7 linked regions of the Homo sapiens genome follow. The protein of the gene in region 1 purifies or fractionates together with the protein of each later gene. This does not show direct contact. Each region holds a gene or a part of one and is shown on either strand. Other genes may lie near its edges.

Region 1 (3,500 bases):
CTCAAAAGATAAGGTGATCAGAGGATATTCCACCTGGTCAGGGAATATATATTCCCTGAGAAGGTGTCATCTAAGTAAAAACAGGGAGGAGGAAAGGGTTTGAGCCATGCAGTGACCTGGAGAGAAATATTCCAGGCTGCAGGAACAGTAAGTGCAAAGGCCCTTGGGCAAGAATATGCCTGACCTGCTGGAGGAACATTAAGAAGGCAGAATGGCTGGAGGCAAGTAAACAAGAGGGATGAGGTCAGAGAAGGTGCAGCAGGCCAGGTCACATGGGGCCTGGAGGCCTGTGGAAGGACTCGAACTTTTACTCTGAAAATTATGGGAAACCATTGGAGCATTTGAGTTAGACTTTAGGAGTCAGTCAGAAACATTCAGTGAATGGGGGACATTATACTATCTTTGGAGTCAAGGTTGAGATTAGAGTCATTGCTGCCCTCAAGGAATGTAGAACACCCAGAAATGCTCACACAAACAGTGAACAGCAAAAGAATATTATTATAGAGCAACTTAATAGGGCAAATTAATAACTGGGTTAATGGCACCCTTTTTCATCCCTATTGTTTTAAATTTTATCCTAAAGACAATATATTCTCCTGGTTTAAAAAAAGAAAACACACAGAAGAATATAATGTTAATGAAGAAATTCGGGGCTGCGCTGTGGTAGCTCATACTTGTAATCCCAACACTTTAGGAGGCCGAGGCAGGAGGATCTCTTGAGCCCAGGAGGGCTCTTCCTGCCTCGGCCTCCTAAAGCATTGGGATTACAGGTATGAGCCACCATGGCCTGGGCAATATAATGGGAACTCATCTCTATGAAAAAAAAGAATTTTTTTTTTTTTTTTCCAGACAGGGTCTGGATCTGTCACTCAGGCTGGAGTTCAGTGGCACGATCTCAGCTCACTGCAGCCTTGACTTCCTGGGCTCAAGCAATTCTCCCACCTCAGCCTCCTGAGTAGCTGGGACTACAGGAGTGTGCCGCCACACCCGGCTAATTTTGGTATTACAAAAAAATTTTTTAACTTAGCTGAGCATGGTGACACATGCCTGTAGTCCCAATTACTCGGGAGGTTGAAGTGGGAGGATCGCTTGAGCCTGGGAGGCGGAAGCTGCAGTGAGCAGAAATCGTGACACTGCACCCCAGCTTAGGCAACAGAGTGAGACCCCGTCTCTAAATAAATAAACAAAAATAAAAATGAATTTATTATAAAATTAAAACATGTTAGTGGTAATTTTTTTTTTGTGGGGGTGTGTGTGTGTATGTGTGTGTGTGACAGAGTCTCACTCTGCCACCCAGGCTGGAGTGCAGTGGCACTATCCTTCCTGGCTCACCTCAACCGCCACCTCCCAGGTTCAAGCAATTCTCCTGCCTCAGCCTCCCTGTAACTGGGATTACAGCCGCCTGCCATCACACCCAGCTAATTTTTGTATTTTTAGTAGAGATGAGGTTTCGCCATGCTGGCCAGGCTGGTGTTGAACTCCTGACCTCAAGTGATCCGCCCACCTGGGCCTCCCAAAGTGCTGGGATTACAGGTGTGAACCACTGCGCCTGGCCAAATTTGTTTTTTTGTTTTTGTTTTTGTTTTAATTTTTAGATGGAGTTTCACTCTTGTTGCCCAGGCTGGGGTGCAATGGCACAATCTCGGCTCACTGCAACCTCTGCCTCCTGGGTTCAACTGATTCTCCTGCCTCAGCCTCCCAAGTAGCTGGGATTATAGGCGCCTGCCACAATGCCTGGCTAATTTTTAGTATTTTTAGTAGAGACAGGGTTTCAACATGTTGGTCAGGTGGGTCTCGAACTCCTGACCTCAGGTGATCCACCTGCCTCGGCCTCCCAAAGTGCTGGGATTACAGGCGTGAGCCCCTGCACCCGGCCCAAAAAAATTTTGAAGTAAAGAAGAATATAATGTTGGCCGGGCGCGGTGGCTCATGCCTGTAACCCCAGCACTTTGGGAGGCCGAGGCGGGCGGAACACCTGAGGTCAGGAGTTTGAGACCAGCCTGGTCAACATGGCAAAACCCCGTCTCTACTAAAAATACAAAAATTAGCCAGGCATGGTGGCGGGCGCCTGTAATCTCAGCTCTTCGGGAAGCCGAGGAAGGAGAAGCACCTGAACCCGAGAGGCAGAGGTTGCGGTGAGCCGAGATCACGCCATTGCACTCCAGCCTGGGCAACAAGAGTGAAATTCTGTCTTAAAAAAAAAAAAAAGATGAAAGTTTCTCCCCTCACTCTGGAGAGGTGATCACTGTTAACAGTTTGTGAGTCTTCTAGATTCTTTCTGTATACAAATAAACAGGTTGAACCATATGAAATTTCTGACACTTGATTGTTTTGACCTACTGAAATACTAGTTTCATATAATTCGACCTAATCTTTGCACATGTATTTGACAAACATTTCATTCTGTAGCTTGCTTTTTTTACATGCCAGTGTAGTATGCATATCTTTCAATGTCTGTTCATATAAACATAACAAAGATCACCCACAACTTTTATTAAGCAGTGCACTATGCACCAGGTACTCTTCACTCAAAACAGCCTTTGGAGCAGACCCTATCATTATCCTCACAGAGGAGGAGACTAAGGTGTTGGAGAATTAAACATTTGCCCATGAGCACACAAGTGGGAAAAGTGAAATCTTTCCAGCTACATACAGTGGTTCCTGACATGGTATACCTGTTTCCTACTGGAAGAGCCTCAGTTTGTCTCCATTTTTTCATATTATAAACAATGCTTAATGAGCATTCTTGTATCTCTCCCATGAGTGTCTGTAGGTTGGATGATTAGAAATGCTGGGGTGGCCGGGCGCAGTGGCTCACGCCCTGTAATCCCAGCATTTTGGGAGGCCGAGGCGGGCAGATCTCCTGAGGTCAGGAGTTTGAGACCAGCCTGGCCAACATAGCGAAATTCCATCTCTACTAAAAATACAAAAATTAGCCGAGCATAGTGGCACGCGTCAGCAATCCCAGCTACTCAGGAGGCTGAGGCAGGAGAATCACGTGAACCTGGGAGGCGGAGGTTGCAGTGAGCCAACACCGCGCCACTGCGCTCTAGCCTGGGCGGCAGATTTGGAACGCGTCTCAAAAAAAGATAAGGACACGGGTAGTTTGAAAAGAGGCCAAGAGACAGCAGATGAGAATATATAAAACTTGAACACTTGTCACTTCAGAAGTGGTCAGTGGATGTTGGCATTATTCTCTTGAGGTGGTCACCCTGGGTTTTAAGTGCTAGGCATTGAGCCAGTGGCACCCCTTAGAGTGGGGATTGGTATTCTATGACCACAGATGTGTTAGGCAAGACTTTCCTGGAATTAGTGATAAAACCAAACTCAAATGGCTTAAGGGAGAGGGGATTTATTGGCTCACATAACCAAAAACTCCAGGGATAACTGCCCAGAGGGAAATGAGGGAAAAAAAGGAAATACTCCCTTCCTGGGATCTCCCACTTCCCAGTTTGCCAAGGAAAACTGAGCCCCAGGAGGACACTGAGGCAAAGTCTCAA
Region 2 (3,320 bases), on another chromosome or scaffold:
ACTCTTAGTAATCCCAAACCCCAGAAGCAGTCTCATTTCCCGGAAACATTGGGGCCACCTTCAGCCTCATCTCCAGAGTCACCAGTTCTAGCTGCTTCCCCAGAACCTTGGGGACCATCCCCAGCTGCATCTCCAGAATCTCGGAAGTCAGCCCGGACTACCTCCCCTGAGCCAAGGAAGCCATCCCCTTCAGAGTCTCCTGAACCTTGGAAGCCGTTCCCTGCTGTCTCCCCAGAGCCTAGGAGACCAGCCCCCGCTGTGTCACCAGGCTCTTGGAAACCAGGGCCACCTGGGTCCCCTAGGCCTTGGAAATCCAATCCTTCAGCATCATCAGGACCTTGGAAGCCAGCTAAACCTGCTCCATCTGTGTCTCCTGGACCTTGGAAACCAATTCCTTCTGTATCTCCTGGACCTTGGAAACCAACTCCATCTGTGTCTTCTGCATCCTGGAAATCTTCATCAGTCTCACCCAGCTCCTGGAAGTCTCCCCCTGCATCTCCTGAGTCATGGAAGTCTGGCCCACCAGAACTCCGAAAGACAGCTCCCACGTTGTCTCCTGAACATTGGAAGGCAGTTCCCCCAGTGTCTCCAGAGCTTCGCAAACCCGGCCCACCACTATCCCCAGAGATCCGTAGTCCAGCAGGATCTCCAGAGCTCAGAAAACCCTCAGGGTCACCAGATCTTTGGAAGCTTTCTCCTGATCAGCGGAAAACTTCTCCTGCTTCACTTGATTTCCCTGAGTCCCAGAAAAGTTCCCGTGGTGGTTCTCCTGATCTCTGGAAGTCTTCCTTTTTTATTGAGCCTCAGAAACCTGTCTTCCCTGAGACCCGAAAACCAGGTCCTTCTGGGCCATCTGAGTCCCCCAAAGCAGCCTCAGATATCTGGAAGCCTGTTCTCTCTATCGATACTGAGCCTAGAAAACCTGCCCTGTTTCCCGAGCCTGCCAAAACAGCCCCTCCTGCTTCTCCAGAAGCACGCAAACGTGCCCTTTTTCCAGAGCCCCGGAAGCATGCCCTTTTCCCTGAACTCCCCAAATCTGCTCTATTCTCAGAATCACAGAAGGCTGTTGAGCTTGGTGATGAACTACAAATAGATGCCATAGATGATCAAAAATGTGATATTTTGGTTCAGGAAGAACTTCTAGCTTCACCTAAGAAACTCTTAGAAGATACTTTATTTCCTTCCTCAAAGAAGCTCAAGAAAGACAACCAAGAGAGCTCAGACGCTGAGCTTAGTAGTAGTGAGTACATAAAAACAGATTTGGATGCGATGGATATTAAGGGCCAGGAATCAAGCAGTGATCAAGAGCAGGTTGATGTGGAATCCATTGATTTTAGCAAAGAGAACAAAATGGACATGACTAGTCCAGAGCAGTCTAGAAATGTGCTACAGTTTACTGAAGAAAAAGAAGCTTTTATCTCTGAAGAGGAGATTGCAAAATACATGAAGCGTGGAAAAGGAAAGTATTATTGCAAAATTTGTTGCTGTCGTGCTATGAAAAAAGGTGCTGTTTTGCATCATTTGGTTAATAAGCATAATGTTCATAGCCCTTACAAATGCACAATCTGTGGAAAGGCTTTTCTTTTGGAATCTCTCCTTAAAAATCATGTAGCAGCCCATGGGCAAAGTTTACTTAAATGTCCACGTTGTAATTTTGAATCAAATTTCCCAAGAGGTTTTAAGAAACATTTAACTCATTGTCAAAGCCGGCATAATGAAGAGGCAAATAAAAAGCTAATGGAAGCTCTTGAACCGCCACTGGAGGAGCAGCAAATTTGATAACACAGTGTGAATATTTGTTCTACAAAGGTGTTTGTTGGAACCATTCTTTGTAAGTATAGCTTATCAGATAGCATAGTTGGATCAGTAGATGACATGTATGGTGTACCGTGTTTCACTGTCTCAGTTGTGTTACTAAGAATGAGCATTTGATCATTTTTTTCTGGTCTCTGTCTATGTGACTATCTTGTAAGTCAATAAATTTCTGTATAGTCCAGATGGATTAAACTTCTCATTTCTTTTAAATATGTATGAATAATAATACAAGGAAGTAGGCATTCCATTTAATAATCAAGAGCAAGTTGTACTCAAAGCATTCAGTTAAAGTGTATCTGTGTGTGGAACTAATTTCAGACAATAGAAAATATTAGTTGAAATGTTTAAGAATTAGGCATGAAAAATAAATTTGAGAAATTTTGTTTCCTTACATGTATTTTTAAATCATAAGAGTTATTTTCTATCTGATGTAAAATTAGTTTATAAATCTTAATCAGCTTCTAGATGTTTATTAGCTTTTATGTCATGAAATGTTGGAGTCTCAGGGTTGCTGATTTTCTGCTAATGGGAAAAATTGACTAAGTCTTTAAAATAGTTTGCAGCCTTCTCCCACAGGAGACAAGTGAAAGATAAGTGTGATTTTAGATCTTTCTTGTCCATAGTTGTTTTCAGTGGAGTCTTCCATTCTGTATCTTACCCTAAGATCTGGTTCTTCCCTCCCCATCCCCACCCCCCACCCACCGCCTGCCAGCTCACACTAATAGATGATTCTTAATTGCCAAATGTGTTAGAGTTTGTATATCCTACTCCTGGGCCTTACATGTCGCCTGTTGGGGCTTAAGACCAGGTTGATAAGTAGGAACTGAAAGTCTTCCAGATTCACAGTAGAAAATTTTATAGACATTTCTGTTAAAGAAATATATCGATTTTATGTTTTTCAATTATGTTACTGTAAATACCTTGTACCTGTTCATGGATTATTTTATTCTAAAATATTTTGTCAAATGTGTATCAACCAAATTAAAAAGAAAGGTTTTCATGTCAGCAACATCTTCATGTGTGTTTTCTTTTGTGTAGTTTTCATTGTATGATATACAGATCCATTATTTCCATGTTTTCAACATAGTTTTCTTATCTGGAGCAGCATTTTCTTAGCTGTGTTTTCTCCAAGTTCTGTGGTCAAGTAAGTTAGGGGAATGCGTGTATAGGGAGGACTCTGTGTCAAAAACCTCATCCTTTCATATGAAAGGTTTTTTAATTCCAGTGGTTGCCTATCCTGCCTGCCTCTAAACAGTGTGAGGCATTTAATCTCAAAGCATTCTGATGTGTAGCCAGGATTGAGATGCTGTACTGGGTTTATTTTAGCTATTCCCAGACATTTTTTTAACAAGGAACAGTTTTGTCCTAGTTCCCCACCCGCTGGCTTCCCTATTAATATGCCCGTTGGGATAGCTTAACAATATTTAGTAATATGGTTTGGCTCTGTGTCCACACTCAAATCTCTCTCTTTTTATTTTTGTTTTTTATTTTGAGACCGATCCTTG
Region 3 (3,500 bases), on another chromosome or scaffold:
GCATTTATACATGTCAAATTCTGATTGCTCTGTCATCTAAACACATTCTTGGGGACAAAATGAGCATCAGAGTTTTAAAATTAGGAAAGCTCACTCAAGCCCAGAATCATAGATTTTTGCTCCTGGATTAAATTAGCAAGTATTTGGCAGGACATCTTTCTGCAGGTTGCTGTAGGTTGATGTTAGCTTTTGAATTAAGCTAATAGTATTAATTATAATAATAATAATCAGCATCAACAAAACCAATGAAATATGGTTTTGAGTCTTTATTATTTAGAATTTATGTGCTGTATATCATACTCAGAATTTTATTTATATGTAAGAGGCATTACTGCTTCATTTAACCTCCAAAAGCCTTTATAAATTAGATATTATTATTATTCCAGTTTTTCAGATGAGGAAACTGAGGCTCAAGGGGTAGAGCCCCTTGTCCAGGTCTTATAACCAGTCAGTGGTAGAGTCAGGTTAGTTGGACCATCCAGATTAGTCTAACCATCAAGCATTTGCTTTAAACCGCAGTCCCAGGTGACCTACCAGTTAACTTTTTTATTGTGGTTAAAATACACATAACTTAAAATTTAACTTCTTAACTATTTTCTAGCGTACAGTTCAGTGACATTAAGTATATTCACATTGTTTTGCAACCATTGCCATCATCCATCCACAGGATTCTTCTCATCTCCTAAAACTGAAACTCTGTCCTCGTGGAACATTCGTTCCTCATCCGTCTTTCCTCTCAGCCCCTGGCAGCCACCCTTCTACTTCCTGTCTCTAAGATTCTGACTGCTCTAGGGACCTCACAGAAGCAGAATACAGTATCCATCCTTTTGTAACTGTCTTATTTCACTTAGCATAGTGTTCTCAAGCTGTATCCATGTGACAGCATTGGACAGGACTTCCTTCCTTTTTAAGTCTGAATACTATTCCATTTATGGATATACCACATTTTGCTTATCCTTGTATCTGTTGATGGTTGCTTCTATCTTTTGATTATTGTGAATAATGCTGCCGTGAAGAGGAACACGCAGATATCTGTTTGAGGTCCTGCTTTCAATTCTTTGGGGTATGTACCCAGCAGTAGAATTGTGGGGTCGTAGGGTAATTCTATGTTTAATTTTTTGAGGAACTGCCATATTGTTTTCCACAGTGGCTGGACCGTTTTACATTCCCACCAGTGGTAGAAAGGGTCCCAATTATTCCACATTCTCAGCAACGCTGTCTTTTGTTTTGTGTTTTTTGAGATGGAGTCTCGCTGTGTCGCCAGGCTGGAGTGCAGTGGCATGATCTCAGCTCACTGCAACCTCTACCTCCCAGGTTCAAGCAATTCTCCTGCCTCAGCCTCCTGAGTAGCTGGGACTATAGGCACGCGCTGCCACACCCAGCTAACTTTTGTATTTTTAGTAGAGATGGGGTTTCACCATGTTGGCCAAGATGGTCTCGATCTCTTGACCTCATGATCCACCCACCTTGGCCTCCCAAAGTGCTGAGATTACAGGCGTGAGCCACCGCACCTGGGCTTTTTTAAAAATCTTCTTTATAGTAGCCTTTCTAATTGGTGTAAGGTGCTGATAGTTAACTTTTTACCCAATCATTGAATGCCCAATGGCAGGGATCTCTGGGCTGATGCTACTCCTGAGTTCATTGTTTATTTCCTATCCCAGCTTGAGCATATACACCTTTTTCTAGTGTAGAATTAATGGAGGAAATACAACTCACACAGCACCTGAGGGACTAGGGAAGCCATGGAAAGGACAGTCCCTAAAACATAAACAGAATGTCCCGGTAGGTAGGGTTATCTCCACCTCCATGAGGAACCTTATGATTCAGAAATGAGTAGTTGTTGAGAATAAAGTGAACATGGCATCAGTGTTAATAACCCTGAATGTGTGGGACAGATGCTTTTTAGAAGATTAGTTACAGATATAATTATCTTTTGTATGTTATCAGAGCAGGACAAGTTCCCAGGACAATGGAGAGAATGGAAAGGGAAACTGCTATTGAATTCACCAGGCCTTTGTTGCAAGCCTCAGATCACACACCGTGCTGCAAAACCCACAGGGAGATGTGGTCAGGCAAATAGGAAATTATAATGAATTGTGATGAATTCATGAGATATTTGTACTATTTTGTATCAGTTTATAATGTCATGCAACTCTGTTTTATATTTGCTAGTTTCCTTTCTGTCTCTTTTTTCCTCTAGCATGAAACTCCATGAGGGCTGGCATTTTGTCCCTACATGTGTCCCCAGCCACTCTAACAGGGCCTGACACATACCAAGTTGTGAACAAATATGTGCAGAATGATTGTGTGTTTCAGTAGGGGACACACTTGGTATTATGTGCACAGCTAGATTTGGGGTGTCGCAGAGCTGTCAGTGACGGCTCAACTGAGACCTGAAGGGGAAGTGGCAGTGAGCCAGATGGGGGTTCTGGGAGGTAGGAACAGTGTTTGTAGAATGTCCCTGCAGCATGTGAGTCTGGAATCCCAGTGCAGTCCAGTCTAAGCCTTGCAGATGAGTGGAAATGAGCAGAGTAAGCATCACAGCTTCCATTTAAACCTCTGCTCCCCATCCTAATTTGCCATATGACCTTAACCAGTGAACTTCTTGGAGTGTCATTCTCTCCATTTGCAAAGTGAAGAAAATTGTGATCTCTGATAGCAGTGATGCTGCGAGAAAGGAGCATGTGCCAGTGTGTGGGCTATTGCTGGGTGGAGCTGGAGGAGTCAGCTGTGCCAGATCACATAGGACCTGTAAGCAGGTGAACCATATACGTTATCCTCCAGATGGGGACTGTTTATAGAGTGAAAGAGCACGTTATTAATCACTAAGCTTGGGTAACAGGTACAAACCCAGATTGTCCTGGGCAGACTGTCCCGTAGAGTTGTCCTGCGTTAAGTCATACGAAGGAGTTTGATCCTTTTCTAAGAACAGGAGGAACCCTTTAAATGCTTTATCTACCAATGTATACAAGTGCCATTCAGGTTCTCTCCAGCGTTTCAGAGAGTTTTACCTGCCCATGAACTCACAGCACTCGGCTTGCACTGCAAACTCACCTATACGTTGGCAGCTGTCTCCTCACTGGGCACTTAATTCATGAACAACTAGGAGGGAAAGACAACAAGACAGCCAGGGGTCTGCTCTTTGGCTCTTTGCATTTTTTTTTACGGGGTCTTGCTCTGTCGCCCAGGCTGGAGTGCAGTGGCACGATCTCAGCTCACAGCAGCCTCCGCCTCTGAGGCTCAAGGGATCCTCCGGCCTCAGCCTCCTGAGTAGCTGGGACTACAGTTGCATGCCACCATGGCCTGGCTAGTTTGTGCACTTTGTAGAGATGGTGTTTTGTCATGTTGCCCAGGCTAGTCTCTAACTCCTGGGCTCAAGTGATCTGCCCGCCTTGGCCTCCCAGAGTGCTGAGATTAAAGACATGAGCCACCACACCTGGCCTAGCTCTTTTCGCCTTTAACTGGAGTGTTAGCTGATATCAAGAACACATCTTTTGGGT
Region 4 (3,500 bases), on another chromosome or scaffold:
AGTACCCAACCCAGCACTAGTCTTTTTGTAGAACTGTCTTTGAGCCATCCCCAGTCTTAACCCGATCATATGCGTCATTCTCTGTTCTAAGACTTCTAGGCACACATTTTTGTGTTCTCTGGCACATTTGTTATATGCATATGAAGTTGTGTTCATTTTGTTTTGTTCCCTCCCTTTTATCTGGTATGTCAAAATGTATTTGTTCCTGTACCTCCTGTTTTGTTTCTCTGGTTGGATGTGTCTGAAATATATGTGTCATTGGAACATCTTTTTATTAATAGAGGTGTCATCATATAGTTCGAATCTCATTTGAATTAACTTTATATGGTCATTTGATTTCTGTGTTTTATTTTAATTTCATTAAAATGTTGGATGCTTGGGTTTCCAGATGAACATAAATTATAAGTGTTTCCCCAGTGGTTTGTATTATAAAAGTGAAAACCTTTTAGTTGTGTCACAAACTCCTGGGCTCTCTAAGGAATGCATTATAACATTGTCCCTCCCTTCAACATCACCCTCCTAAATTGAAATTCGTCCCTTTGGCAGAAATCTCTCCAAAGGAAAGTAAAATATATCACTTGTGATCTGAGATCCTCTGTTCCCTATCTTTTTGTTTTTCATTCAAATCACTTTTCCTCTCCCTACTGCTGCAGATAGCCGGGATGAGTATATATTCTTTTCAACTATCACTTCTCATTTCATTTCCTACCCAGTATGGTTGGGAAAATCTTAAAATTTCAAAGTAGATTTCAAAGAATAAAAATTTAGACTTTTAAGTATATTGGTATCATATAAGAAAAGCTAGTATCCTAAAACTAAACTTATTAGACAGGACGTATGTTAATATTCCATTTTCCCTAAAATATCATGTTCATATTTTTCCCTAAATTATTTCTTCCTTTTCTAGGAATACACCTGTTGCACACATGATAACAGAACTGTGTTTTCTGATACATTCGATTCTGTATTTACTAGTTGTGTGATATTAGAGTTCTACATGGTTTCATTTTTGTGATAGATTGTAACATAGGCCTTAGGCACTCAGTCTGCTTTCCTTTTTCATTTCTGTATGTTCTCTATTTTAGGTCATGGAGTGGTTCAGTATTTTAATGTAGCATCAGCTATTTATGCAAAATACAAATTACATGGATTTCAGTACCCTCCTGGGAACCGAATAGGTGTTTCCTTCATTGATGATGGAAGTAATGCAACAGAGTAAGTACCATTCCAGGAGTGTCTAAAGCCGAGCTTTGAGTGTACATGATTGATAGGACTTGAAGAATAAAAATAGAAACAATTGACCTCTCAGGTGAGAAAGTCACACAAAACAAGCTACTGTTAAAAGACTGAATATTTTTAGTTTTCTGTAAATTATCAGTTATTTTTTCCAGTCTCCTTAGAAAAATGGCAACACAGATGGTAGCTGCACAGCTTGCATCAATGGTGTGGAATAACCCAAGTCAGCAACAATTTATGGTAAGTAGGTAAGAATTTAACCTTTATAATATATCAATAGCATATAAAATAAATGTGAAGAGAAATCATGCTTTGTTGATTATCTGTGTATGAAAATTTTCAGAGCTATTGTGGAAGACCACATAGATGCCATGATACATATCTGTCTTTAGCTCTTGGCCAAAAATCCCTAAAGGGCATTTTTTTCTTTTTCTTGTTTTCTACCTGTTAACAGCAATTTGGAGGAAGCTCTGGATCACAGTTGCCTCAAATCCAGACAGATGTTGTACTTCCATCATGCAAAAAAAAAGCTCCTGCTGAAACTCCTGTGAAAGAAAGACTTTTTATTGTGTTTAATCCTCATCCTTTACCTTTAGACGTATTAGAAGATATATTCTGGTAAGAAAGTTACATTTTTTGTTATATTTTATTTACACTAGTAATTTAATTATTCTTATAATCTAGACACTTCCTTCACCCAGTACCTATCAAGTAGAGAGTATTAGTTCTCTGCTTTTAAAACCTCCTTATTTGTATCATCTTTTTCAATTTCTGATTATTTTCTTCTCTTGTTTATCAGTCACACATCCTAAGGCTCCATAGAGAATTTCCTGCTATTTTGTTTTTGAAACATAAAGTGGGCCTGGTGCAGTGGCTCATGCCTGTAATCCCAACACTTTGGGAGGCCGAGGTCAGGGGATCGCTTGAGCTCAGGAGTTCAAGACCAGACTGGGCAATATGGCAAAACCCCATCTCTACAAAAAATACAAGAATTAGCCAGGCATGGTGGTACATGCCTGTGGTCGCAGATACTTGGGAGGCTAAGGTGGCAGGATTGCTTTTGCCCAGGAGGTCGAGGTTGCAGTGAGCCAAGATTGTGCTACTGTACTCCAGCCTGGGTGACAGAGTGAGACCCTTTTTGTTTTTTGTGTTTTTTTTGCTAAGCATCTTCTGTTTTGTTGGTGCATTGTAGGATCCTTAAGGGTTATGCAGTCGCATTGTGTAAACAATTACTTGATTGTAGGGAAAAATACATAAATGTTTTTTATAATAAAAAAGGGAAGGTTCTTATTTATTTTTGTGTTTTTAACATAACTCCTTTCTTTGCTTTTTCTTTTAGGCCTTTTTCCCATTTGCCTTACAAGAATGTTAGTGAATTTGATAGACAGGAAGCTTGTTAAAGAGCTGCACAAAATATCAGGGACATAATGTGATAGTATATTGAGGCTCAAAAGGAAAAAAATATCAGGATATGGTTCAAGTATTTTGACCTTTATTTAACTGATATATTTAGTTTTCTTCTTGAACCTCCTCTTTGTTCAAGGCAGGAACTGTGCTAAGTACAAGAGACATGTAAACAAAATATTAAATGGACAAGACATTATGATTCTTGTCCTCTTAGAGCTGATCTCATGTAGGAAACAGACAAGTAAACAGAAAATTACAACCCAGGGTGATTGTTGCTGTGATAAGGAATGTGTAAGATACAAAGGAGGAGCAGTTACCTTAGAAACTCTGAGAAGCCTTGAAAGAAGGAAGGTGTATGTGGAGACCTGAAGTATAAAAATAATTTCTCCACAGGTGAAAGCTGGGGGTATGCATGGTTATTTCTGCCATAGAGAATGTAAAAGAAGGGCTGTTAAATAGGGAATTTGAGAGATTGTTAAGGAAGATGAAACTAAAGAGTCCAAGGACAATGTCAGAACGGCTCTAGAGCTATATTAAGGAATTTGTTGTCACCATGGAGGCAATGGGGAGCTGCTGAGGGGACTTTTAGGGAGTAAATGATCATATTTATGTTTTAGAAAGATCACTCAGAAGACAGAGTGAAAAATGGATTGAAGAGGGACAAGCTCAGGGGTAAGGAAACTAGTGAAAAAGGAGTTAGATTAAGGAAAAGATGATGGTCTGAATGAGAAGAGAGATCTGAATGAGAATGAATAGAATTGACTGAGATGTTTAAGATTGACATGAGTTGGATGTTGGATCTGGGGAGAAGGGTGAAAATGGAGTCAAGAATGGACTCCAAATTTTAGACCTGAGCA
Region 5 (3,500 bases), on another chromosome or scaffold:
GAAAGCCTGAAAAGATACCTCCAAAGGCCAATTTTAGGTTCTATAATAGTGATATTATTTACAGGAGTAATTGGGGAAGTTGCAAATCGTGTGACCTCTGGAATAATAGCTGGTAATTATTTAACTATGCCTACATTTTAGTAAAATTCAGGCCCCTTTCCTCTTCCTAACTTGGTGGTCTTTCATCAGTTTTACAAGGATAGTTTAGTTTTTGGGAAGGGCTATCGTCATTTACACTATAAACTAAATTTCTCCTGAAGTTAGTTTGGCTCACATCCAGGAATGAGCAAAGCCAGCCAGCTTGTGAGGCTAGAAGCAAGATAGAGTACTGTCATAATTTTGCAAAGGTGATTTCAGTTTAAGGTGGACAATTATGCAAATATATACAAAAATCAGTAGTTTTTGTATCTTAACTACTTTGAAAATATAATAATGGGAGAAAATAATCCTATTTGCAAATGGATCACAATCATAAAACACTAAAAAGCATAATCCGTGTTTTTAAAACCATAAAACTTTATTAATAGACATCAGAGAAAACCTGAAGTCAGTGAAGAGCTATAATTTATTCTTGGTTAGAAAGCTTCAATAGGGTAAAGAGGTTACTTCCCCAAAATTAATCAATAAAGTCAATGGATTTCTTTCAAAAATGGGGGAAGGTATGAGGACTTGACAAAATATCCTTCCATGTGAAATTCAGAATGGCTAGGGCAATGTTATAAAAAGAAAAGTAATTAGGAATACTAATTCCACCTCATGACAAAGTGTGATAAAACTTTGGCAACTAAATGGCGTGGCACTAGCAGAATGGATGTGCAAAACAATGCAACAGCTTAGAGAATCCAGAAATAGATCCAAAATATATGAGAATTTAACACAGGAAAAGCAGGCACTTTATAAATCAGTGAGGGAAAGATAGACTACTTGCCATCTGGGAAGGAAAGCTAAGGCAGATGCTACTTCATTTATTTCAACAAGATAAATTCCTGGTTTGTCAAAATGGTAAACATAAAAAGTGAACTCATAGGGGTATTAAAAAACATAGACTTATGTTTTTGATGCCCTTGTGTTAGGGAAGACTTATCAAGCACGGCACAAAAGGCTGCAATCTTGACAAATATTAATAGATATGATATTAAACAATTCAAAACTTGCATTTCTATAAGCCACTCCCCCACCATAAACAAGGTAAAAGACAAAGTATGGAGGGAAATATTTTCACCATCTATGATAGTGAAAAAATTAATATTCTTAATTTACAAAGAGCTTACAAATCAATGTGAAAAACAGAAACATCAATAGAAAAATGGGCTGAGAACATAAACAATTTACAAAGGAAAATAGTTAAGTAGCCATTATATGTAATTGGAAATATCCATTTTACTAGTATCAAACATATATGGACACACATGTATATGCATAGAGATATGACTGGAAAGGTTTTTAGTGATTGTCTCTGGGGTGAGAGTTTGCATAAAATTCCGTTTTTTCCTTATTTTTTTTAATTTTGCTTAATTTTTCTACATGGATCTGTATTTCCTTTATAATCAGAAAAATAATGTCATTTTAATTTAAAAATAAAAGAAGACAAAGAGAGCTGAATATTGCTCCAACAGCTGCCAAGATTCCAGAATGTTTGTTCTCTCCAAGAAGCAGTCAGCTCCAGCTTTGAGGGGATGTGGCCTTGCTTAGGAGACAGGAATGTTCTTGAGTCTGATTTCAGGGTTCCTAGAAGGAAATTGTTAAGAAGTTTCACAGTCAAGGAAGGGAGGGGTGACTGTTAAATCAGCTGGGAAGCTTTTAAAGATCCTGTAGCCCAGGCCACACTGTGATCTGATTAAATGGGCAACTCTGCATCAGGGCCCAGGCATCAGTGTTTGTGTGAAGCTCCCCCCGTGATTCTAGTGTACAGCCAGGGCTGGGAGCCACTGGACCAGAGGAAATCTGTGGCTCCATTTGGATGAGGAGCTCTGTCTATCTGGTCCACAAAGGTCTAGGGATTTTCTCAGCCCTGATCAGAGGACTTGTTGGGGTAGAGAAAGAGAGGGGATGGGGGACCAGGAGGAGGGAACAGTTCTGAAATATACCAGAAGAGTGGAAAGCCTAGATTGTTTAATGGAGATTTGGGTTTACATGAAGAGTCCTTTAAGCAGACGGAAGGAAAGGTGTGTGTGCATGTATGTGCAGGTACAGGCCTTTTTTCTCACCCCATAAGTGGTTCTATTTTTGTCCTTTATAGGGCTACAGAACAGGTTACACGTATCGCCACCCCTTTGTTCAAGAGAAAACCAAACACAAAAGTGAGGTGGAGATTCCAGCCACGGTCACAGCCTTCGTGTTTGAGGAGGACGGTGCCCCGGTGCCCGCCCTGCGACAGCATGCCCAGAAGCAGCAGAAGGAGAAGACCCGCTGGCTCAATACGCCCAACACCTACCTGCGGGTCAATGTGGCCGATGAGGTCCAGAGGAGCATGGGCAGCCCCCGACCCAAGACCACGGTAAGGGGGAGCCCAGGACAGACCCGGGCAGAGAGGGGCAGGCTGCATTAGCAGGGTGAAGCATTTTTAAAACGGGAACAGAACAAACCTCTCCTGCCCCAGGTTAGTAGCATCCTCTTTGGGCTTCCTATTAGGCCTCTGGGAGCAGCTGCTCAGGCCCACTGAGCCCCTGACCACTTCTTCCTTGCACCTCTGCCTGAGTTTTTGGGTCTAAGGAGCAGATTTCTCCAGAGGGCAGTTGGACCAGGCACATGACCCAGAACCAGTTGGTTTGTGCTTCTTTCTCCCACATCCACAGGGGGCTCTTGGGAAATTCAAGGGAGGAGCATTTAACATTGGGACTTCAGATCTGATGCAAGCCCAGGAGGTGGGCTGTACAGCCACTTCTATGAAGTTATATTTTCTCTCCCTGTCCCCACCCACAGGCTCTCAATTTTTTATTAACATAAAAGTAGCCAACAGCCAAATAGAATAGCTCTTCATAAAACAATATGAAGCTCTCCAAACTCAAATCAAGTTACCTAATACTGAAGCCCAAGTGGTTGCCTGTGTATCAAAGCTGGTTCCCAAGGTTCTGACCCCAACTCTTGGATGTTCTTTATAGCCGACCTTTGGCCTGAGGGCCTTCATTGGTAACTGGGTCATCTGTTGCCATTCTCTGCTCCTGGAGACAGACATCAAAGAGGCCTAAGAAGAGAGAGTGTCTATGAGTAGGCTTGCTGACCTTCCATGCAGGATGTTGGGCCCAGATCTCGTGGGTGGACCACTGGGGAGGACTCATGGGCCTGTTCCCTCACCTCAGCCCCATGACCTTGTGTTTGTGCAGTGGATGAAGGCTGACGAGGTGGAGAAATCCAGCAGTGGCATGCCGATTCGCATCGAAAACCCAAACCAATTTGTGCCTCTCTATACTGACCCCCAGGAAGTACTGGAGATGAGGAACAAGGTAAGTGGGGTCTGTTTATCCCACTCTTTCTTCTCCCACACTGGGGGGTCTCAGGTC
Region 6 (3,500 bases), on another chromosome or scaffold:
TGCGGCCAGAGTGTGGGGTGTAGCCACAGGCTCCAGCTCTGGCCTGGCTCACTGCTCTGTCAGTGGTGGGGATGGAAAAATGGACACTATGATTGGAGATGGGAGAAGTCAGAATTGCTGGGGTGCTTCCAACTCCAATGCTGGCATTAATCTTAACCTTAATCCTAATGCCAACCCAGCTGCCTGGCCTGTACTTGGACATGAAGGAACCGTGGCGACAGGCAACCCTTCCAGTATTTGCAGTCCAGTCAGTGCCATAGGTCAAAATATGGGCAACCAGAACGGGAACCCAACAGGCACTTTAGGTGCTTGGGGAAACTTGCTGCCACAAGAGAGCACAGAACCACAAACGTCCACTTCTCAGAATGTGTCTTTCAGCGCACAACCTCAGAACCTTAACACTGATGGACCAAATAACACTAACCCCATGAACTCTTCACCCAACCCTATCAATGCAATGCAGACAAATGGACTGCCAAACTGGGGCATGGCTGTTGGTATGGGGGCCATCATCCCGCCCCACCTGCAAGGCCTTCCTGGTGCTAATGGATCATCAGTTTCTCAAGTCAGTGGGGGCAGTGCTGAAGGAATAAGCAATTCTGTGTGGGGACTGTCCCCAGGTAACCCTGCCACAGGAAATAGCAATTCTGGGTTCAGTCAGGGGAATGGAGACACTGTGAACTCAGCATTAAGTGCTAAACAAAATGGATCCAGCAGTGCTGTGCAAAAGGAAGGAAGTGGAGGAAATGCTTGGGATTCAGGACCTCCTGCTGGTCCTGGAATACTCGCCTGGGGAAGGGGCAGTGGCAACAATGGCGTTGGTAATATCCATTCAGGAGCTTGGGGCCACCCCAGCCGAAGCACCTCTAACGGTGTGAATGGGGAATGGGGAAAGCCCCCAAACCAGCATTCCAACAGTGACATCAATGGGAAAGGATCAACAGGGTGGGAGAGTCCTAGTGTCACCAGCCAGAACCCTACCGTACAGCCTGGTGGTGAACACATGAACTCCTGGGCCAAAGCGGCATCTTCTGGAACTACAGCAAGTGAAGGAAGTAGTGATGGTTCTGGCAACCACAATGAAGGAAGCACTGGGAGGGAAGGAACGGGAGAAGGCCGAAGGCGAGATAAAGGGATTATAGACCAAGGGCACATCCAGTTGCCAAGGAATGATCTTGACCCAAGAGTTCTGTCTAATACTGGTTGGGGACAGACTCCTGTAAAGCAAAACACTGCCTGGGAATTTGAAGAATCCCCTAGGTCTGAAAGGAAAAATGACAATGGGACAGAGGCCTGGGGTTGTGCAGCTACTCAGGCTTCAAACTCAGGGGGGAAGAACGATGGGTCCATCATGAACAGTACAAATACCTCTTCAGTATCTGGGTGGGTCAACGCGCCACCTGCCGCTGTGCCAGCAAACACAGGTTGGGGAGACAGCAACAACAAAGCGCCAAGTGGCCCGGGGGTTTGGGGGGACTCGATAAGCTCTACTGCTGTTAGTACTGCTGCTGCTGCCAAGAGTGGCCATGCTTGGAGTGGGGCCGCAAATCAGGAGGACAAGTCACCCACCTGGGGTGAGCCTCCAAAGCCCAAATCCCAACACTGGGGAGATGGACAAAGATCAAATCCAGCCTGGAGTGCAGGAGGGGGAGATTGGGCAGATTCATCGTCTGTCCTTGGACACTTGGGGGATGGGAAAAAAAATGGATCTGGATGGGATGCTGACAGTAATAGGTCAGGGTCTGGTTGGAATGACACCACGAGATCTGGGAACAGTGGCTGGGGCAACAGCACAAATACAAAGGCCAATCCAGGTACAAACTGGGGGGAGACTTTAAAACCTGGCCCCCAACAGAACTGGGCTAGCAAACCCCAAGACAACAATGTGAGTAACTGGGGAGGAGCTGCTTCTGTGAAACAGACAGGAACAGGGTGGATCGGGGGGCCGGTACCGGTCAAACAGAAGGACAGCAGTGAAGCAACTGGCTGGGAAGAACCCTCTCCACCGTCCATTCGCCGCAAAATGGAAATTGATGATGGTACCTCAGCTTGGGGGGACCCAAGCAACTATAACAATAAAACTGTAAACATGTGGGATAGAAACAACCCGGTCATCCAGAGCAGTACCACGACCAATACCACCACCACCACCACCACTACCACGAGCAACACCACACACAGGGTCGAGACGCCGCCCCCGCACCAGGCCGGTACTCAGCTGAATCGATCACCGTTGCTTGGTCCAGGTAGGAAAGGTATTTCATGTTTCTTTACAAGTAAAAAAAAAAAAAAAAAAGCTTATTCTCATTATATATTCATGAATACTCCGAGTAGTGTTTTTTATAGCAAATAGCATTAAAATAATTTAAGTTCCCTATCACCGTGCAATATTGTATCTAAAGATTATCCAGTGAGAGCAAAGTAGGATCCTCTGGTGGTTTTCTATTCAAGAAAAAAATATATTAAGCACACTCAGTAGAACATCAAGCGAATGTTTTGGTGGTGGCGGTGGTGGCCTGGGGTGGAGATGATGGATTTGAAAGCAATGACAGTGCATGATTCCAAGATTTCGTAACCATTTGGATACAGGAGCAAAGAAGATAGGATAGACATGGTTCAGAACTTGGGCAAGTTGGCAGATGACTGTGTCAGTTCACTGACATGCCCATGAGCACAGCAGGAGGCACAGAGCTCCAAGTGTCCAGTGAGGACAATAAAAGGTCCCAGATACGGAAGACCAGTTCTCAGCCAGAGGGGCAAGGTCCAGAGTAGAGAGATTTTAAGGTGGCAAAGTCGTGAGCATGTTTCAGAGCTGTTAGAAAGGAACAAGTGGAGATGAGAATGAATGAAGAGGGAAGAGATCCCTGTGTCCAGCAGGACAAGGGCACTTCATCCATCTCGTGAAGCAAGGAGCAGGAAAGAGCGCTGCACAGGTGGGCCAGGCTGTCATGGCCAGAGGGCCAAGGCCACCTTCTGGGGTTCTTTTCTCTCTGGGAGTGTGAATACTAGCCCAGAGTGGAGGAGGGCTGGCTAGGAGCAGCAGCACGAGTAGAGAGGGAGCATGCATTAGCCCATGTAGAGGACAGGAACAGAGAACTGACTTGACTGGGGCCCCTGGAGGGTTGCTGGGCAATGTCAGGGCCCAGAGATCACCATACACAGTGAATTTATTGGGACCTGCCATGTACTAGGCTGTACTCTAGTAGCTGGGGAAACTGCAGGAAGCAAAACAGTCAAAACCCTGCCATGGAGGGGTCTAGATCTAGTGAGGGTGGCAAACAACACACGAATTAAAGTATATACGTAGTGTTGGGCAGTGATGGTGCAGGGAGGAAACAGTAAGCCCAGAAGGTCTGCATGCGGGGGCCACTGGAGTTGGGGAATCACCATCTTGTGTAGGGCAGCCTGGGCATTTGGGCACCTTTTTGGTTTTTGTCATAAGCGTTCAACAGGAGAATGTCCTGCCTGCTGCATTAATTCAATTATGACTGCCCTACAGG
Region 7 (3,996 bases), 420 kb from region 1:
CAGCGATGACATCACCCCTACCGCTCTCCTGAGGGGTCATTTTGAGGCGCGCGTAGAGGACTAGAGGACTCATTTTAACTTTGGTTTGGCGACAGTGGGAAGCGGGAAAATTGGACGTAAAGAGCTCAGACTATGGATCCTCCTCGCTAGGAAACCAGCACTTGTGAAGGAGCGCAGTTTTGTTTACTAAATAACTTTTTCCTTTTCGCCTGTCTAAAAATGCAATGTCAGTTAATCCCTTCGTTAACCCCTCAGAGTAAAGTTGGGGGACTGGGAGAAAACTCAGTTCCGTTGTATGGCGGTGTCGTGGAATGAGGCTCCCCGGGACTGGTAAACTTTCAGGCAAGGACTCAACCTTGTATATTTCAACTGGCCCGAAACCGCGGGCCTGTGTGTACATAGAATTGCTAGCATTTCCCCTCCATTCCGCAAGCACCTTAACAACAAAAAGTCATATAGCTCGAGCAGAATTTATCCAATTCATTTATTCATCCACAACTATTGACTGCCTACTTCGATTTAGAAACAGTGCTAGTACCAGGGAACAAAACACACATAGTTTCTACCCAATTAAATGATTTTTTTCAGTTCGCCAGTACTGAAGATTGAGGTTTGTTTTTACAAGTCTGACACTTTTCTATCAGTTTGGTTAATCTCATTAAAACTAAGAGGAAAGCCTAAAGAGAGGAAGGTGTCTCCTTTGAACGTTTCACTTTAATGAACTAGTTCACGTACTGGGAGGATGAAGTGGTGAGGATATTTCTGTTTTAAAATTTTCTTCTCTTCCCTCATTGAGATACGAGGGGGAGGGCGTTTTATTCACCTGGGTATGACTAGGTCCCCGCACCTATTACATATTTAATTTATGCGTGCTGAAAGAATGGACTTGGAAATGTAGGTGCGCGTTACATTTATCTCTTTGTTTCTACGCTGCCTGGACGAATTACCGTATTTCCTGTCCCAGGAGCTCCCAAAACCTTTGGGGAAGGAGCGCACTTCGGGAGGCGCGTACAGGTGGGCCTGTTTGTCCCTTTCCACCTGCATAATGGGGGCCCACAAGGCGCTGTCCCCATGCCCCGAGAGGCGTGTCTCGGCACAGCAAAGTCCACCTGCGCTGGTCCGCGGAGCCCCGCCCAGCTAGGTGAGCTAGGGGGCGGGGCGCGGGGGCGCGGTGACGCGTGACGCCGGATCCCGGAAGTGACGCGCTCGTGGGGAAAAGGCAGGGAGGGGGTGGTGTCCCCAGCCGGTTTGGGGGGTGCGTTGCCCGGAGACGGAAAGTTTGGGAGCCCGAGCAGGCTCGGCTGCAGCCTCGGGGAGGGGGTCCAGCGGGTGGCGGCCCTGGGGATGGGGAAGGAGCAGGAGCTGCTGGAGGCGGCCCGCACCGGGCACCTCCCGGCGGTGGAGAAGCTGCTGTCCGGGAAGCGGCTCTCCTCAGGCTTTGGGGGCGGCGGCGGCGGTGGCTCTGGGGGCGGCGGCGGCGGCAGCGGCGGCGGCGGCGGCGGCCTCGGCTCTTCCAGCCACCCCCTCTCCAGTCTGCTCAGGTGGGTACGCGCCAGGGCCGGGCCGCTGCCTGCAGACCCTTTCTCCCCCACCCGTCTCTTGGGTCCCCAGAGAGATCGGGGGTCCTGAGACTCGGGCGGGGTGGGCTTGTGGCGTGCCCGGGGCGAGGCAGGCGGCCCGCGGGCCAGGGTACCGGAGGGCGCGCAGGTCCGAGTCCACGCTGCTCCGGGCTCGCCTGGTCTCCCGTTCTGACCCGGCTGCGAAGAATGGTGGGAGTGCCCAGGTGGCAGCCTCCGCCGCATGGCACAGCCAGGGTTCACTCTCGCTCGCTACAGGGTGCCAGCTATCGTAGCTCACAAAAGCCAATTAAGAGCAAATATGTATATCTTATATATATATATATGAGATCTCCCTCACCTCCTGCAGAAACTCCTACGCCTTGTAGAATCTCGAGGCTCCTCTGGAGGAAATTCTATTGATTTTCTTCTCTGAGGAACTTGGAACCTTCCACCAGGCTACACAGGACCTCGCTTTATTTTTTTTTTTCCCTCGAGACGGAGACTTGTTCTGTCAGCCAGGCTGGAGTGCAGTGGCGCGATCTCGGCTCACTGCAACCTCCGCCTCCCGGGTTCAAGCGATTCTCCTGCCTCTGCCTCCCAAGTAGCTGGGATTACAGGCGCCCGCCACGACACCAGGCTAATTTTTGTATTTTTAGTAGAGACGGGGTTTCACCATATTGGCCAGGCTGGTCTCGAACTCTTGACCTCAGGAACCGCCCGCCTCGGCTTCCCAAAGTGCTGGGATTACAGGCGTGAGCCACCGCGCCTGGCCCCTCGCTTTTGTTTTATTAAAATTGCCTCTGGATGTATCATTTTCAAGATGTTCGTCTTTGAGCCTCTCTTGTGCTTGAAGTTCAAATTGTAGTTCCTTGTAGTGAACCTCATTGGATTAGTCTAAGTGGCATATGCAGGATTCATCCAGGGGCTTATTCATCTAGAAATAAAGGCAGAGAGACTTGTTTAGGAAACCGAAGGATGCTGTAAACTTTTCCAAGGTCTGTTGTTAAACGCTTCAATCTGGAGCTGTAAGGACCGAGGGAAAAACATCAGTTTTGTGTGGCTTCGAAGGGGGATTGGGGGTGCTTTGTTAGTGTGAGTTAAATGTGTTAGTTCAGCAGCGCTTTCATAGCCTGATTTCTTTTTCCTTCCTTGTTCTTTTGAGGTTTTTAAGAAGTGGAAGTTCATTTAGAAATGCCTTCGTTAGCTTTTGTTCCCCATTACTTTATGTAACTTCAGTTTGAGTGAGCTTGGACCATATAAGCCTAAGGCGCTAATAAATTGTTATTAATAGATATTAAGCACTGAGTACCAACCCAGGTCTTTACAGGAAGATTTTAAAAAGCAATATAAGTAGGTACTTAAGATTTGTTGAAGAAATAAAAGTATCAGTTGCAGGACAATAAATTTCTAAATAAATGGATGGTGGATGGTATTACTCGCTGTAATTGCTAGCAGCTCAGAGAACAGAGACATCATTTAGGGATGGAGTGGAAGTCAGGGCTTCCAAAAGGAGGGAGACTTAAGCTGGCCTTGAAGGATGTGAGGATTTGGGTAGGTGAGTTATGATGGGCATGTTTCAGGTGGGTACCCCATGATCAGAGGCACAGAAATGAGAATGGAGACTTATTTGGTGCTCCTTAGGCAACAGGAGAAGAACTTCCTGCCTGCACCCTTGAGAGGTTGGGCATAATAAAGGTAAATAATAATGGATGGGTATACTTCCATATATCATGTTTATATTCTCAGTCCCTAGATCAGTGCCTGACAACTTACAGGTGTTTAATAAATGTACAGTGAATGCATGAATTGGGTTTTGAATCTTACCTGGATTTGCCACTCTGCAGTTCTGATGTCTGAGAGGTGACAAGACTGTACAGGTTTGGAGATGCCTCTGTCTTTAATGAGTTGATGACATAGCATTTGGAGATTTTCCAGAGATATCTTAACCCTCAGCATATCCTGCTAAAGTGAGAAGTTTCTCATATCTCCCACCCTCAAACACAGGTCAAATTATTCTTTTTTTTTTTTGGAGACGGAGTCTCGCTCTGTCCACAGTCTGGAGTGCAGTGGCAGTATCTCAGCTCACTGCAACCTTCGCCTTCCTGGGTTCAAGCGATTCTCCTGCCTCAGCCTCCCAAGTAGCTGGGACTACAGGCAAGCGCCACCACACCCAGCTAATTTTTGTATTTTTTGTAGAGATGGAGTTTCACCATGTTAGCCAGGCTGTTCTCAATTTCTTGACCTCATGATCCGCCGGCCTCGGCCTCCCAAAGTGCTGGGATTACAGGCGTGAGCCACCTTGCCCGGCCTCAGGTCAAGTTATTCTTAGTGCGCTCACTCGGAGACTATTGAAATTCTGCTGAGGATTTAACTGCCATATAGTTAATATAGTTAAGCAAGACTAGGAAACCTGTTGAGCACAATGCTTCTACTTTGG

Evidence for each region.
Region 2: the proteins of DEF6 (region 1) and CHAMP1 purify together in Homo sapiens (affinity purification with mass spectrometry; 3 studies listed by BioGRID and IntAct, with this or other methods). This does not show direct contact.
Region 3: the proteins of DEF6 (region 1) and PRKCQ purify together in Homo sapiens (affinity purification with mass spectrometry; 3 studies listed by BioGRID and IntAct, with this or other methods). This does not show direct contact.
Region 4: the proteins of DEF6 (region 1) and RBM45 purify together in Homo sapiens (affinity purification with mass spectrometry; 3 studies listed by BioGRID and IntAct, with this or other methods). This does not show direct contact.
Region 5: the proteins of DEF6 (region 1) and ADD2 purify together in Homo sapiens (affinity purification with mass spectrometry; 3 studies listed by BioGRID and IntAct, with this or other methods). This does not show direct contact.
Region 6: the proteins of DEF6 (region 1) and TNRC6C purify together in Homo sapiens (affinity purification with mass spectrometry; 2 studies listed by BioGRID and IntAct, with this or other methods). This does not show direct contact.
Region 7: the proteins of DEF6 (region 1) and ANKS1A purify together in Homo sapiens (affinity purification with mass spectrometry; 3 studies listed by BioGRID and IntAct, with this or other methods). This does not show direct contact.

The regions. Positions count from the first base shown.
Region 1 is NC_000006.12:35,304,318-35,307,817, forward strand, and holds part of DEF6 (differentially expressed in FDCP 6 homolog), read left to right. Parts: intron 1-3,500.
Region 2 is NC_000013.11:114,324,503-114,327,822, forward strand, and holds the end of CHAMP1 (chromosome alignment-maintaining phosphoprotein 1), read left to right. Parts: coding exon 1-1,779; 3' UTR 1,780-2,820; downstream 2,821-3,320. UniProt on the Homo sapiens protein: Required for proper alignment of chromosomes at metaphase and their accurate segregation during mitosis. Involved in the maintenance of spindle microtubules attachment to the kinetochore during sister chromatid biorientation.
Region 3 is NC_000010.11:6,573,777-6,577,276, reverse strand, and holds part of PRKCQ (protein kinase C theta type), read left to right. Parts: intron 1-3,500. UniProt on the Homo sapiens protein: Calcium-independent, phospholipid- and diacylglycerol (DAG)-dependent serine/threonine-protein kinase that mediates non-redundant functions in T-cell receptor (TCR) signaling, including T-cells activation, proliferation, differentiation and survival, by mediating activation of multiple transcription factors such as NF-kappa-B, JUN, NFATC1 and NFATC2.
Region 4 is NC_000002.12:178,122,437-178,125,936, forward strand, and holds part of RBM45 (RNA-binding protein 45), read left to right. Parts: intron 1-1,085; coding exon 1,086-1,215; intron 1,216-1,391; coding exon 1,392-1,476; intron 1,477-1,690; coding exon 1,691-1,854; intron 1,855-3,500. UniProt on the Homo sapiens protein: RNA-binding protein with binding specificity for poly(C). May play an important role in neural development.
Region 5 is NC_000002.12:70,677,701-70,681,200, reverse strand, and holds part of ADD2 (beta-adducin), read left to right. Parts: intron 1-498; exon of another isoform or gene 499-1,728; intron 1,729-2,239; coding exon 2,240-2,497; intron 2,498-3,018; exon of another isoform or gene 3,019-3,184; intron 3,185-3,323; coding exon 3,324-3,443; intron 3,444-3,500. UniProt on the Homo sapiens protein: Membrane-cytoskeleton-associated protein that promotes the assembly of the spectrin-actin network. Binds to the erythrocyte membrane receptor SLC2A1/GLUT1 and may therefore provide a link between the spectrin cytoskeleton to the plasma membrane.
Region 6 is NC_000017.11:78,049,203-78,052,702, forward strand, and holds part of TNRC6C (trinucleotide repeat-containing gene 6C protein), read left to right. Parts: coding exon 1-2,246; coding exon of another isoform or gene 2,247-2,255; intron 2,256-3,500. UniProt on the Homo sapiens protein: Plays a role in RNA-mediated gene silencing by micro-RNAs (miRNAs). Required for miRNA-dependent translational repression of complementary mRNAs by argonaute family proteins.
Region 7 is NC_000006.12:34,888,059-34,892,054, forward strand, and holds the start of ANKS1A (ankyrin repeat and SAM domain-containing protein 1A), read left to right. Parts: upstream 1-1,196; 5' UTR 1,197-1,344; coding exon 1,345-1,541; intron 1,542-3,996. UniProt on the Homo sapiens protein: Regulator of different signaling pathways. Regulates EPHA8 receptor tyrosine kinase signaling to control cell migration and neurite retraction.